Homo sapiens: one gene and its partners. The protein of the gene in region 1 purifies or fractionates together with the protein of each later gene. This does not show direct contact. Each region holds a gene or a part of one and is shown on either strand. Other genes may lie near its edges. The genes, in order: ACAA2, ACSF2 and LARS2.

What was found.
Region 2: the proteins of ACAA2 (region 1) and ACSF2 purify together in Homo sapiens (affinity purification with mass spectrometry; one large-scale study listed by BioGRID and IntAct). This does not show direct contact.
Region 3: the proteins of ACAA2 (region 1) and LARS2 purify together in Homo sapiens (affinity purification with mass spectrometry; 2 studies listed by BioGRID and IntAct, with this or other methods). This does not show direct contact.

What each region holds. Positions count from the first base shown.
Region 1 is NC_000018.10:49,793,032-49,796,683, reverse strand, and holds part of ACAA2 (3-ketoacyl-CoA thiolase, mitochondrial), read left to right. Parts: intron 1-802; coding exon 803-919; intron 920-2,256; coding exon 2,257-2,404; intron 2,405-3,652. UniProt on the Homo sapiens protein: In the production of energy from fats, this is one of the enzymes that catalyzes the last step of the mitochondrial beta-oxidation pathway, an aerobic process breaking down fatty acids into acetyl-CoA.
Region 2 is NC_000017.11:50,460,571-50,464,222, forward strand, and holds part of ACSF2 (medium-chain acyl-CoA ligase ACSF2, mitochondrial isoform 2 precursor), read left to right. Parts: intron 1-106; coding exon 107-302; intron 303-671; coding exon 672-800; intron 801-1,062; coding exon 1,063-1,116; intron 1,117-1,613; coding exon 1,614-1,732; intron 1,733-1,849; coding exon 1,850-2,015; intron 2,016-2,585; coding exon 2,586-2,681; intron 2,682-2,824; coding exon 2,825-2,982; intron 2,983-3,247; coding exon 3,248-3,339; intron 3,340-3,647; coding exon 3,648-3,652. UniProt on the Homo sapiens protein: Acyl-CoA synthases catalyze the initial reaction in fatty acid metabolism, by forming a thioester with CoA. Has some preference toward medium-chain substrates. Plays a role in adipocyte differentiation.
Region 3 is NC_000003.12:45,517,565-45,521,216, forward strand, and holds part of LARS2 (leucine--tRNA ligase, mitochondrial), read left to right. Parts: intron 1-338; coding exon 339-508; intron 509-2,654; coding exon 2,655-2,732; intron 2,733-3,652.

The DNA of each region.
Region 1 (3,652 bases):
GGAAATGTATTTTATTTCAAAGGAAGTGAATGATGCTGTTAGTAGAAGTACAAACTAGTTTGACCTTTTTAAAGGACAGTTGGTTAAATACATTTGTTTCTTTGAGCACAGAGAAGAAAGTGAAATCCAATTTCATTTGTAAAAGTCTTCATTTTATTACAAACAAAATAAGAGCCAGAGGCGTATTTTAATAAAACAATTTTCACATTAATTTGTTTCTATAACGATATATCTTAAATAGTGACCTCGGTTTTCCTAGTAATAATTTTAAGAACCATCAGGTTCATAGAGGCTCATTATTTGCTCCTTTTCTGAGAAAGGCAAACAGTGGAAAGTGTTGGAAGAATGAAGTGGTTTCCTTTTTATGAGTCACCTAGATTGAACTAGTTCTTGTAAATCTCTGTTCTTGTTCAGATACATCCATTAATGGGATAAATTTTTCTTTTGCCTTTTTAAAGGGTATGTCCTTTATTATCTGCTGTACATTTATGCCAGGTATTAATATCTGTTGATTTTCAAGATTTATATTGTGTTAAGAATTACTATTCTTAGCCACATGTAGGTAGGGCCTGTTACTCAGGCAAACATGATTGAAACCTTTTAGTTTTCTCCTCCTACATCTTGGTAATGGATACTTTAGCATTTGCTTTACAGTTACTTTAAAAGCATTTCCTTTTGAGACACTGTAAGCTACAGTACAATATTTGTTTGATTTACCATTAATTTGTAAAATCAGTGTGTTTCTTAATACATTGTTTGGGTACGGTAAAAGGAGTTTTTATTACTGTTTGTTTTTAAATAGGAAATTTGTGTTAAAGAAGCTGAAGTTGTTTTATGTGGAGGAACCGAAAGCATGAGCCAAGCTCCCTACTGTGTCAGAAATGTGCGTTTTGGAACCAAGCTTGGATCAGATATCAAGGTTGGAACCATAAAAATTTAAAAGAATTAGTTCTTATTAGCATTATATAAGTACTTTTAATAACATACCTTTTTATGGGAGAGAAAACTAATTTTGAAGCCAATTTCGTTGATGAGGATTGGCAAGATATGAATGATTAGAAGTTTGTAAACTATTTCAAAACTCTATTTTGGTGGTTAGTTTTGACATTTTAACCCATATGAAATTAGATTCTATCTATCTCAGCAGACCTCTAGTAGTATAATTATCCTGTGTAAGTGGCCATAGGCATGGGAGAGATGGAGGAAGGGAAGAAGTGGATTAAAAAGATAGACAAAAGAGTGAATTAATCTCACTACTAAACAATTAGTAATCTGAGTAATTAAATCTTTAACGTGACTTATAGAAGTTTTATTTCTGGGACAGTCTCAGAATAGATTTCTTCATCATCACAGAAAACATCTTTGAATACAGATTATATTGTCCCAAATCAAACAAAAACTGATTCTTTTATCTTTGAGAGCTACAACTTGAGAATGATGGTACAGTACTGATAAAGAATGATGTTTTCTTCTCATTCCCATGTGAAAGGGCTACTGACATTTTATATTTTTTAGCATTTTCTATAGTAATGTTTGACTCACACTGTTCACCCAGTTTCTCACCTGGCCTTTTTGGAAGTTGAAAGGAATGGGACTTAAGAGAATCTATGCGGATTTTAGCCACCAAACACATTTGAGATATCTTTTATGAAGACAGGTCAGTGAGTTAAATGTTGATGAGGCAGCAAAGTGGGGCACACTTACCAGAGACTAACTACTTGAATAATAATTAACAACCTTTCTGTAACTCTGGGAACCTGTCCCAAGATCTTTTCAGCCTCATAGTAACCGATAGAACCAGCTATTCCTGTCACTGAGGCGCAGGATGAAAAAGAAAAACAGATAATACTGTTTATTACAGAGCTCAGGGCTGGTTTACAAAGATGGCTATAAGAAAACATTGCATGAAGACTCATTGTCAGGTTTTCTACAAAATATGACCTTGAGGATTTAATTTTTGATCGTAGGGTAACTTCTGTGATCTCACCATGCACGTCTAGTCCTGTTAGCTGTTCTTAGACCCCCACATTTAGAGAGGGACAGAGAATGTGTGCATTTTATTTTGTGACATTGAATGTTTTCAAAAACATTGCATGTTTTTAAAAAATATCCCATAACTGAATATGAATAGTGGTTATCAGAAAGTCTTAATTTTACTTTTGTTTATTGGAAGTGTTGATTATTTAAAGAAATTATAACATATTACTTTTAAAAGGAAATGCCTTAACAAGTCACTTTATTAATGTCTTTTAATAGCTGGAAGATTCTTTATGGGTATCATTAACAGATCAGCATGTCCAGCTCCCCATGGCAATGACTGCAGAGAATCTTGCTGTAAAACACAAAATAAGCAGAGAAGAATGTGACAAATATGCCCTGCAGTCACAGCAGAGATGGAAAGCTGGTGAGTGAAACTGGAAAGTATCAGTATCTATAGAATAAATATCTATAGGAAATATTTTCATCATTTCTATTATGGTTATATAATATTTACAAATCATACCTTTAAGAATTATTACATCTTTTCATTATTCCTTTGTCTTTAGATGATCAGATATTTTATTAATTATTGCAAAATTAACTAGGAATTTCTCTTTTGAAAAAGTTAGTACTACTTAAAAAGTGGTATTGCTACTTGACCCTAGATGGACCCTTGAGTTTTGTGCTGAACTGGTCCTGTTGTCAGTAGAACATGATGAGGAATACGATACGTTCTGTCAGAGGTGATAGCTCACTGTGGCAACTGGAATATAGAGGATGTCCTCTCCCACAAGCCATATCATAATCATAAGAAGGGGTAATGTATTTGGAAAAGACCCACTGGGTCTTTTATGCTTTCCTTCTGCCACTCCTAATTAAGAATCATTGTACCTAACTCAGAGACTTAGAACTAGTCCGAGACTCTAGTTAGAGTGCCCTGGTGTAGCACAGCAGGTTGCTATAGAGCCGGTCCAAAACAGGCAAATGTGACAGCAGTTCTTTTAGCAGTGCAGCAAGTTGAAGAAATGTGATATTTAAAAAATTAAACTGTTAAAGCAAGTGGAAACTCTTATTTAGGAATATTAAATGCTTGAAGTAATGAGGATAAAGTCCATCTTAGCATTTCAGAAGGATAAGTGGAATAGAGCTGATGCCATCTAACTCGTGTGTTTTTTTACTTATATGTTCATAGTGGAAGAGGATTGGTCTAGAAGTCAAGAGTTATCAGTTCTGTTTCTACTTCTACCACGCACAAGTTATCAAGCTCAGTCATATCATTTATTCACTGAACCTCTGTAAGATAGAGATAACAATATTTGCCTTCCCTATTTATCTAATAAGGTTGTTTTAAAACCAAATAAGGGCATATAAGGAAAGTATTTTGCCAATTGTAAAGTGATATGAAAATTAAGGTTAGTATTATTCCTGACCCTATTTCCAAAGCTATAGATTACTACAGTACATTCTAGTCAGTGGAGGTCAAAGTAGGTAAGATGTTTTACTTATAATTGTATTAGTGATTGCTCCCATAATTTCTTCAGGTTGCCTATCACTATTAAGTTTCAGTTAGATTACTTTGTGGCATAGACAACTTGGTAACTTTTTAATTGCTTATCTCACCAAAAGAAGTTTAAAAGGGGTATTAAGTCCATTTATTGCCATTACATCTATA
Region 2 (3,652 bases), on another chromosome or scaffold:
AACACATTGTCAGCAGCCTACCCCCTGGCTTGGCTGGGTGTGCCATGCCCTTGGTTCCAGGGAGACTGATCTGGGACAGTCAAACCCATAGCTCCTCTCCCTACAGTTCCAGAGAGGTGGATCGCATGGTCTCCACGCCCATCGGAGGCCTCAGCTACGTTCAGGGGTGCACCAAAAAGCATCTTAACAGCAAGACTGTGGGCCAGTGCCTGGAGACCACAGCACAGAGGGTCCCAGAACGAGAGGCCTTGGTCGTCCTCCATGAAGACGTCAGGTTGACCTTTGCCCAACTCAAGGAGGAGGTGGGTCCTGACCTGGAAACCTCAAAGTGGGCAAGTACTAGCTCCCAAGCTGCCCTAGCTGGGCAGAACCAGGAGCGTGGGCACCTGGCTATGGGGCAATGTGCTAGGGCTGCCAGAGAACCCCGAGGGATGGCAGGAGAAGGAGACAGGACTGACGCACAAGGGGTCCAATGCCTCCTGTATCAGCAGCTCCTGGGGCACCTGTTAACTATGCAGGCCCCAGGGCAGACCCACTGAGGCTGGGAATCTGCCTGTCCCTTTGTCCCCAGTGACTGTGATGAGAACTCCGGGCTAAGGGCTGAGGGTGGGAGTCTTGGGCCCCTTCCTGCTTGCCCCCTTTCACCCCTTGCGCCCCATCTTTTACACTAGGTGGACAAAGCTGCTTCTGGCCTCCTGAGCATTGGCCTCTGCAAAGGTGACCGGCTGGGCATGTGGGGACCTAACTCCTATGCATGGGTGCTCATGCAGTTGGCCACCGCCCAGGCGGGCATCATTCTGGTGAGGAGGGGCTTGCTTGGCACAGCTTGGTGTGCATGGGGGAACATCACTGAAGGGGAGCCCCTCAGGCCCTCAGCCCCAGGATCAAACCAGTGCCTTGTTGGTTTCAAACCAGGTAGTGCTTTCTCCTGAGGCCCACCAAGGAGGTCTCTGGGAGTTAGGGGGCTGTAGAGTGCTGCCTCTATGCCTCCTGGGGGCGGAGGGGCAGCAGGAGGGACAGGGTCTGCCCAGAATACTGATATGCCCTCGCCGCTTCCACCAGGTGTCTGTGAACCCAGCCTACCAGGCTATGGAACTGGAGTATGTCCTCAAGAAGGTACAGCTCATTTGTCGGGGAGGGGCCCGGCTGGGGCCTGGCACAGGGGGCTGCACAGACTCTGCTTGTCAGAGTCTGACGGTGTGAGCTAGGGCATGCATAGGCGGGTGATACGCAGAGTGTCCTTCCTTAGGCCATGTGTGATTGGAAGGTGGCCCCAACTCCAAGGAGAGCGTGGTTGGTCAGACACAAACCTGGCGTGAGTGTGCAGGGACGGGGGCATGTGTGTGTCAGGGCAGAGGTGTGTGTGTGTGTGTGTGTGTGTGCGTGTGTCCATCCTCATATGTGATGCATATGTGTCTCAGGGTGTGGTGTGTGTGTCTCGGGGCTGGTACATGTGTGCATTTGTCTTGGAGTGTGGTGCCTGTGAGTGTGCTGGAGGTGTGTGTGTCAGAAGCGGGTGCATCTGTATGAGAGCAGCTGATTAGTGAGGACTCCCCCAGAGCTCTAGTCTGGGGCTCCCCGCTGACTGGAGGTGGGGGACTCCCCTTCCACAGGTGGGCTGCAAGGCCCTTGTGTTCCCCAAGCAATTCAAGACCCAGCAATACTACAACGTCCTGAAGCAGATCTGTCCAGAAGTGGAGAATGCCCAGCCAGGGGCCTTGAAGAGTCAGAGGTGGGTGTGTCCCAGGTTAGTGGGTGGTGCATCATTCAGCATCCCTGATTCCTTCACTTCCTACCCACCCTGCCCCCTCCCTCAGCCCCTGTCTCTCACCATCGTCCCCAACCCCAGGCTCCCAGATCTGACCACAGTCATCTCGGTGGATGCCCCTTTGCCGGGGACCCTGCTCCTGGATGAAGTGGTGGCGGCTGGCAGCACACGGCAGCATCTGGACCAGCTCCAATACAACCAGCAGTTCCTGTCCTGCCATGACCCCATCAACATCCAGTTCACCTCGGTAGGGCAGAGGTCTCCAGGCCCCAAGCCCAGATGGACACATGCCCCCTGTCCCTGTGACACTTCCGCGGGGATGGGGAGACAGCAGAGGAGAGCATGCCTTCTTTACTGAGACTGGCCTTCAGCTGTCCTCTCTGCCCTGGAAAATATCAGCACCTGGTGTCCTTGTCACATTTCCTCCCCTAGCCCCCCGCCCTCTCCACTCCAGCCCTCTTGTTCCCGGTGCAGTGGCAGATTCACTGAACCAACACAGGTTGGAACTGCTACAGGCTGCCCCTCATTTAGCTGATGAGGAATCAGAGACGCAGAAGAGAGAATTTGCCCAAGCCAGCTTGTGGGTGGCAGAGTTCTCTGGGCCATGTAAGTGGCATGAGAACGGAGACCTTATCTTCTGCATTGCTGGACCCTGACACCTGGTATCGTGGTAGACCTTTTGCAAATATACTGAACAGATGGATCTGGGGCAACAATCCCTGTCTCCTGATTCCCGGTCCCGTGCTCTTCAAGGCAGTGGCCCAGGGTGGGAAGGAGATGAGAAGGAGGCCAAGCCATGCCCTGTTTGCCTTGTCAGGGGACAACAGGCAGCCCCAAGGGGGCCACCCTCTCCCACTACAACATTGTCAACAACTCCAACATTTTAGGAGAGCGCCTGAAACTGCATGAGAAGGTGAGGCGGCACTAGGCCCAGGGCAAGGCTGCAGGAGGGGTGGCTCAGGCAGGGGTGGGGGGCTGGCTGGGCTCCCCTTGCCAGCTAGAGAGGAACTGGCGTCTGGCTCCAAGACAGACCCAGCCTCCTGTCTCCATCACCAGACACCAGAGCAGTTGCGGATGATCCTGCCCAACCCCCTGTACCATTGCCTGGGTTCCGTGGCAGGCACAATGATGTGTCTGATGTACGGTGCCACCCTCATCCTGGCCTCTCCCATCTTCAATGGCAAGAAGGCACTGGAGGCCATCAGCAGAGAGAGGTGGGCACTGGTGGACAGGCTACTTGTGGGCTGATAAAACCCTCTTCTTCCTCACTCCTGGGCCCTGACACCTTTCCAAGCTGCCTCCTCCCTCCAGCCAGGAGACTGAGGATGGGGACAGTGGAGGACCCCCAGGAGAGGACCAGTTCCTGCCTCAGGAGCTTCTCCTGCCTATTCCCTTTGCTGCAGTTTCATGGCGGGGTGGGTGAGAACAGGGAGTTCCCTTCCACTTCCAAGCCTAATTTCGAGACCTCCTCCTATACAGAGGCACCTTCCTGTATGGTACCCCCACGATGTTCGTGGACATTCTGAACCAGCCAGACTTCTCCAGTTATGACATCTCGACCATGTGTGGAGGTGGGGTGGGGCCAAGGGCAGCCAGGCTTGGGGAGGGGGCTGCTTCCCCCACAGGAATGGCCCGGGTGAGTTAGCTATGCTCCCAGTCTTTTATATAGGGGGCAAGAAGGACGCTGTAAAAATGTGGGTGGGAGGGAGGGAGATCCCCAGTGTCCCTGGACACCAGCCCAGGGCCAGCTGCCAGGTGTAGGAAAGGCTCGGGGTCAGAGGAGAAAAGGGAATGTTCCTCCCCTGAATGAGCTGTAGGTGAAAGGACTCCACTGGGCCTGGAGAATTGGGGAGCTGTGTCAGCCCTCTCTCTGATTCAGGTGTC
Region 3 (3,652 bases), on another chromosome or scaffold:
TTTTTGTCCCAGCAAGCTTGCTTAATCAAGGCGGCGGGGCACCAGGGCTCATCTTGACCAAGCTTCTGAGCTCATGACCGTTGGTGGGTGGCACTTTGAGTGGCCCTGCCATCCAGTGCTCTGAATCTGGGCACTAAAATGAGATAGAATTGGTCCTGGTCTGAATTCTCAGACACTGAAGGCCAGGGAGGATCCTTCAGCCTGCCCTCAGAGGAATCCATCAGGGTGCAGTGAAGTGTCACATCAATTCACAGGTGTTTTTCTCTGCTTAGTTATACCAAGTCAATCACCCTTATGTTGCACGCTCTCTCTTTCTCATTTACTGATGCTGAATTCAGCTGATGCTCTCCCTGGGGTGCTGAGATGGCAACAACGACTGTGGACCTTGACAACTCGGTTTATTGAGGCCAGGGCTTCTGGGAAGTCTCCCCAGCCTCAGCTGCTGAGTAACAAGGAGAAAGCTGAGGCCAGGAAGCTCTGGGAGTACAAGAACTCCGTCATCTCTCAGGTCAGAAACTCTCCAATTCCAGGGGTTAACTCTGTAACCAAGCACTCTTTGGGAACCTTTGCCTGTGGTCTTTGCTGCCCTCCCTGCCTTGGGTTGGGCCACTGTGGGTCTTCCTTCCTGGCAATGGCGGTCCTTCTTGCTTTGATTGATTGGCCCTACTGTTTTGGGTACTTTACCAAGGTGGATCAACAGTGCATATGTTCTAATGGAAAGAGATGCCCCCAGGAAATGGCTCTCTGATGATGTCTCACATTTGTCCATCCTGGGTCTCAGGAAGCTGCCACTTTCCATGTTTCCACATTTAACACATCCAAGCAGAGAACCAAATCCAGGATCACCCTGTCATCCAGGATGACACCGCATATGTTACATTAACAGAAATACAATTTTAGAGTTGGAAGGGGCATTAAGAAACTATCCTCTGTAGCCTCCTCATTGTACAGATGGGGACAGAGATGATGTCCAGATATCTTGCCTAACGTCACACGGCTAGTGAGGAACTGAGCAGAGATTAGAATCCCAGTCCTCCACATAGTGAGGACTTTCCCACTCAGTTACTTTGTTACACAATATCCATGTGAACTATTGTGGGTTAATTTCTGCAAATCTGAAGTCATTGTAATGGGTATCTGATATCCCAAATTCTTCTTAAGCTGATTTAAAAAAAAAAAAGTTATGCTGATTCAGACATAAAGTTAATCAGTGTCGCTCATCTGCACTCTGATAATGAACACAATGATGCATGGCAGGTTTTTGCCTCTCTGGTTTGTATAACCTGAAGTGGCCCTGGGTCCAGCATGGTCTTATTTGTTGACACTTCTTCAGCTTTATTTCTGGCCTCTGTACCCTCTCTATGTGGAGGAACAGAGCTCCCTGAATGAATGTAGGGGTCTGAGTGATGCCTGAGCGATTGAGTTCATACCACATATTTTCTCCCTGGATTTGGCAAATTCTTCTATTCTGTCAGATAAAAGAATTAGGTTATTTCAACAAGTTGGAAACTCTTGACATCCTTAAAGATGTGTTACTTTTCTGTATTCTTGCCTATAGTCAAAATGGAAAAGCACAGAAACATGAAAAAGCTGACAAGCTGTGTTAATGTTCTTATGTTGACTGTACATTTCAAAATGTAAAATTGACAAGGCGCAGTGGCTCACACCTATAATCCCAGCACTTTGGGAGGCCAAGGCGGGCAGATCACAAGATCAAGAGATTGAGACCATCCTGGCTAACATGGTGAAACCCCGTTTCTACTAAAAACACAAAAAATTAGCCTGGCGTGGTGGCACGCGCCTGTAATCCCAGCTACTCGGGAGGCTGAAGCAGGAGAATCACTTGAACCTGGGAGGCAGAGGTTGCAGTGAGCTGAGATCGCACCACTGCACTCCAACTTGGGTGACAAAGCGAGTCTCCGTCTCAAAAAAAAAAAAAAAAGTAAAATTAACCTTATCCCATATTCTAAAAACCGTCACTGTGAAGCAAAGTCACATAACCAAGCAGAAGTGGCATCCTTTATTCCTGTTTTCTGTTATGTTGAGTTTACCCATCAGTGGGTCCTGCGTCCTATTCATGTTACTAGCATTGCTTTTTTTTTTGACAAAGTCTCACTCTGTTGCCCAGGCTGGAGTGCAATGGCGCAATCTCAGCTCACTGCAGGCTCCACCTCCCAGGTTCAAGAGATTCTCCTGCCTCAGCCTCCCAAGTAGCTGGGATTACAGGTATGCGCCACCACACCCGGCTAATTTTTTGTATTTTTGTAGAAATGGGGTTTTGCCACATTGGCCAGGCTGGTCTCGAACTCTTGACCTCAAGTAATCCACCCACCTCGGCCTTCCAAAGTGCTAGGATTACAGGTGTGAGCCACTGTGCCCAGCCACTAGCACTGTTTTTCTAAGCACCTACTATGAGAACCAACAGTATCCCAGATATGTGGAAGAATAGTCTTAAACAGTGGAAACAGTGTTGACTTTGAATTTTAAAATATTTGTGTAGATGAAACATAGCGATTATTTGAGATAGTAGATATATTTATAAATATCTTTGCATCCCATTCATTTTCCTTTTTTTTTGTTTTGATAATTCAGTCTTTTTGTGGAAAGCTTAAAAGAATTTTGAAATAAGTAAATAATTGAACCTTTACTAATAGGTGACCACCCATTTCACAGAGGACTTCTCACTGAATTCTGCAATTTCTCAGCTGATGGGACTCAGCAATGCCCTCTCGGTAAGTGGCCTGTCCTCATTTGCTGGTAGCAGAGGAGGGAGGGAGAGGTGTGGCAAGGGGCCCCACAGGGTCCCAAGAGGGACAGAGAGCACCCCCACTGTGTCACCGCCTCAGTGTGGCTTGATTATCTTAAGGAAACATTTTTCCATAGTCACAACCTAGTTTTATGCTGGAATGTTCTTAAAGATTTTCTGGTCCAAACCCCCTTCTCCCCCAATATTTTACAGATGAGGACATTGAGGCCCAGGGAAGTTAGATGACATGTCTGGTTGATTAGTGACAAATCTAGGACCAGACTCAGGCCTCCCTGTCTTCTGGCTCTTTGCACCCCCGCTGTCTGATTTCATGAATGAATTGTGATACCTCCTCGGCATCATTACATTTGATATTCATTTAACCTGGATGGATCAGGATCGTTCTCACCAATGCCAAAAGTCAGCCTTTTCAGTATGGACTTCCTTCTTGCTAAGTGTGACTACCATTTTTCTTGCCAGGGAAAGGATTTGTCAACAAATGTTCTTAGCTACTGGACAACAAAAGCATTCATTAAAGCTATTAACAAATGCTTTTTAAAAATGAAGTCCTCTCCAAGCTTTTAAGATCAGTGGGGGCCAGGCACAGTGGCTCATGCCTGTAATCTCAACGCTTTGGAAGACCAAGCTGAGAGGATCACTTGAGGCCAGGAGTTCAAGACCTGCCTGGGCCGCGTAGAAAATAAAATAATTAGGCCAGGCATGGTGGCTCACACCTGTAATCCCAGCACTTTGGGAGGCTGAGGCAGGCGGATCACGAGGTCAGGAGATCAAGACCATCCTGGCTAACACAGTGAAACCCCATCTCTACTAAAAAATACAAAAAATTAGCCAGGCGTGGTGGCAGGCACCAGTAGTCCCAGCTACTCAGGAGGCTGAGGCAGGAGA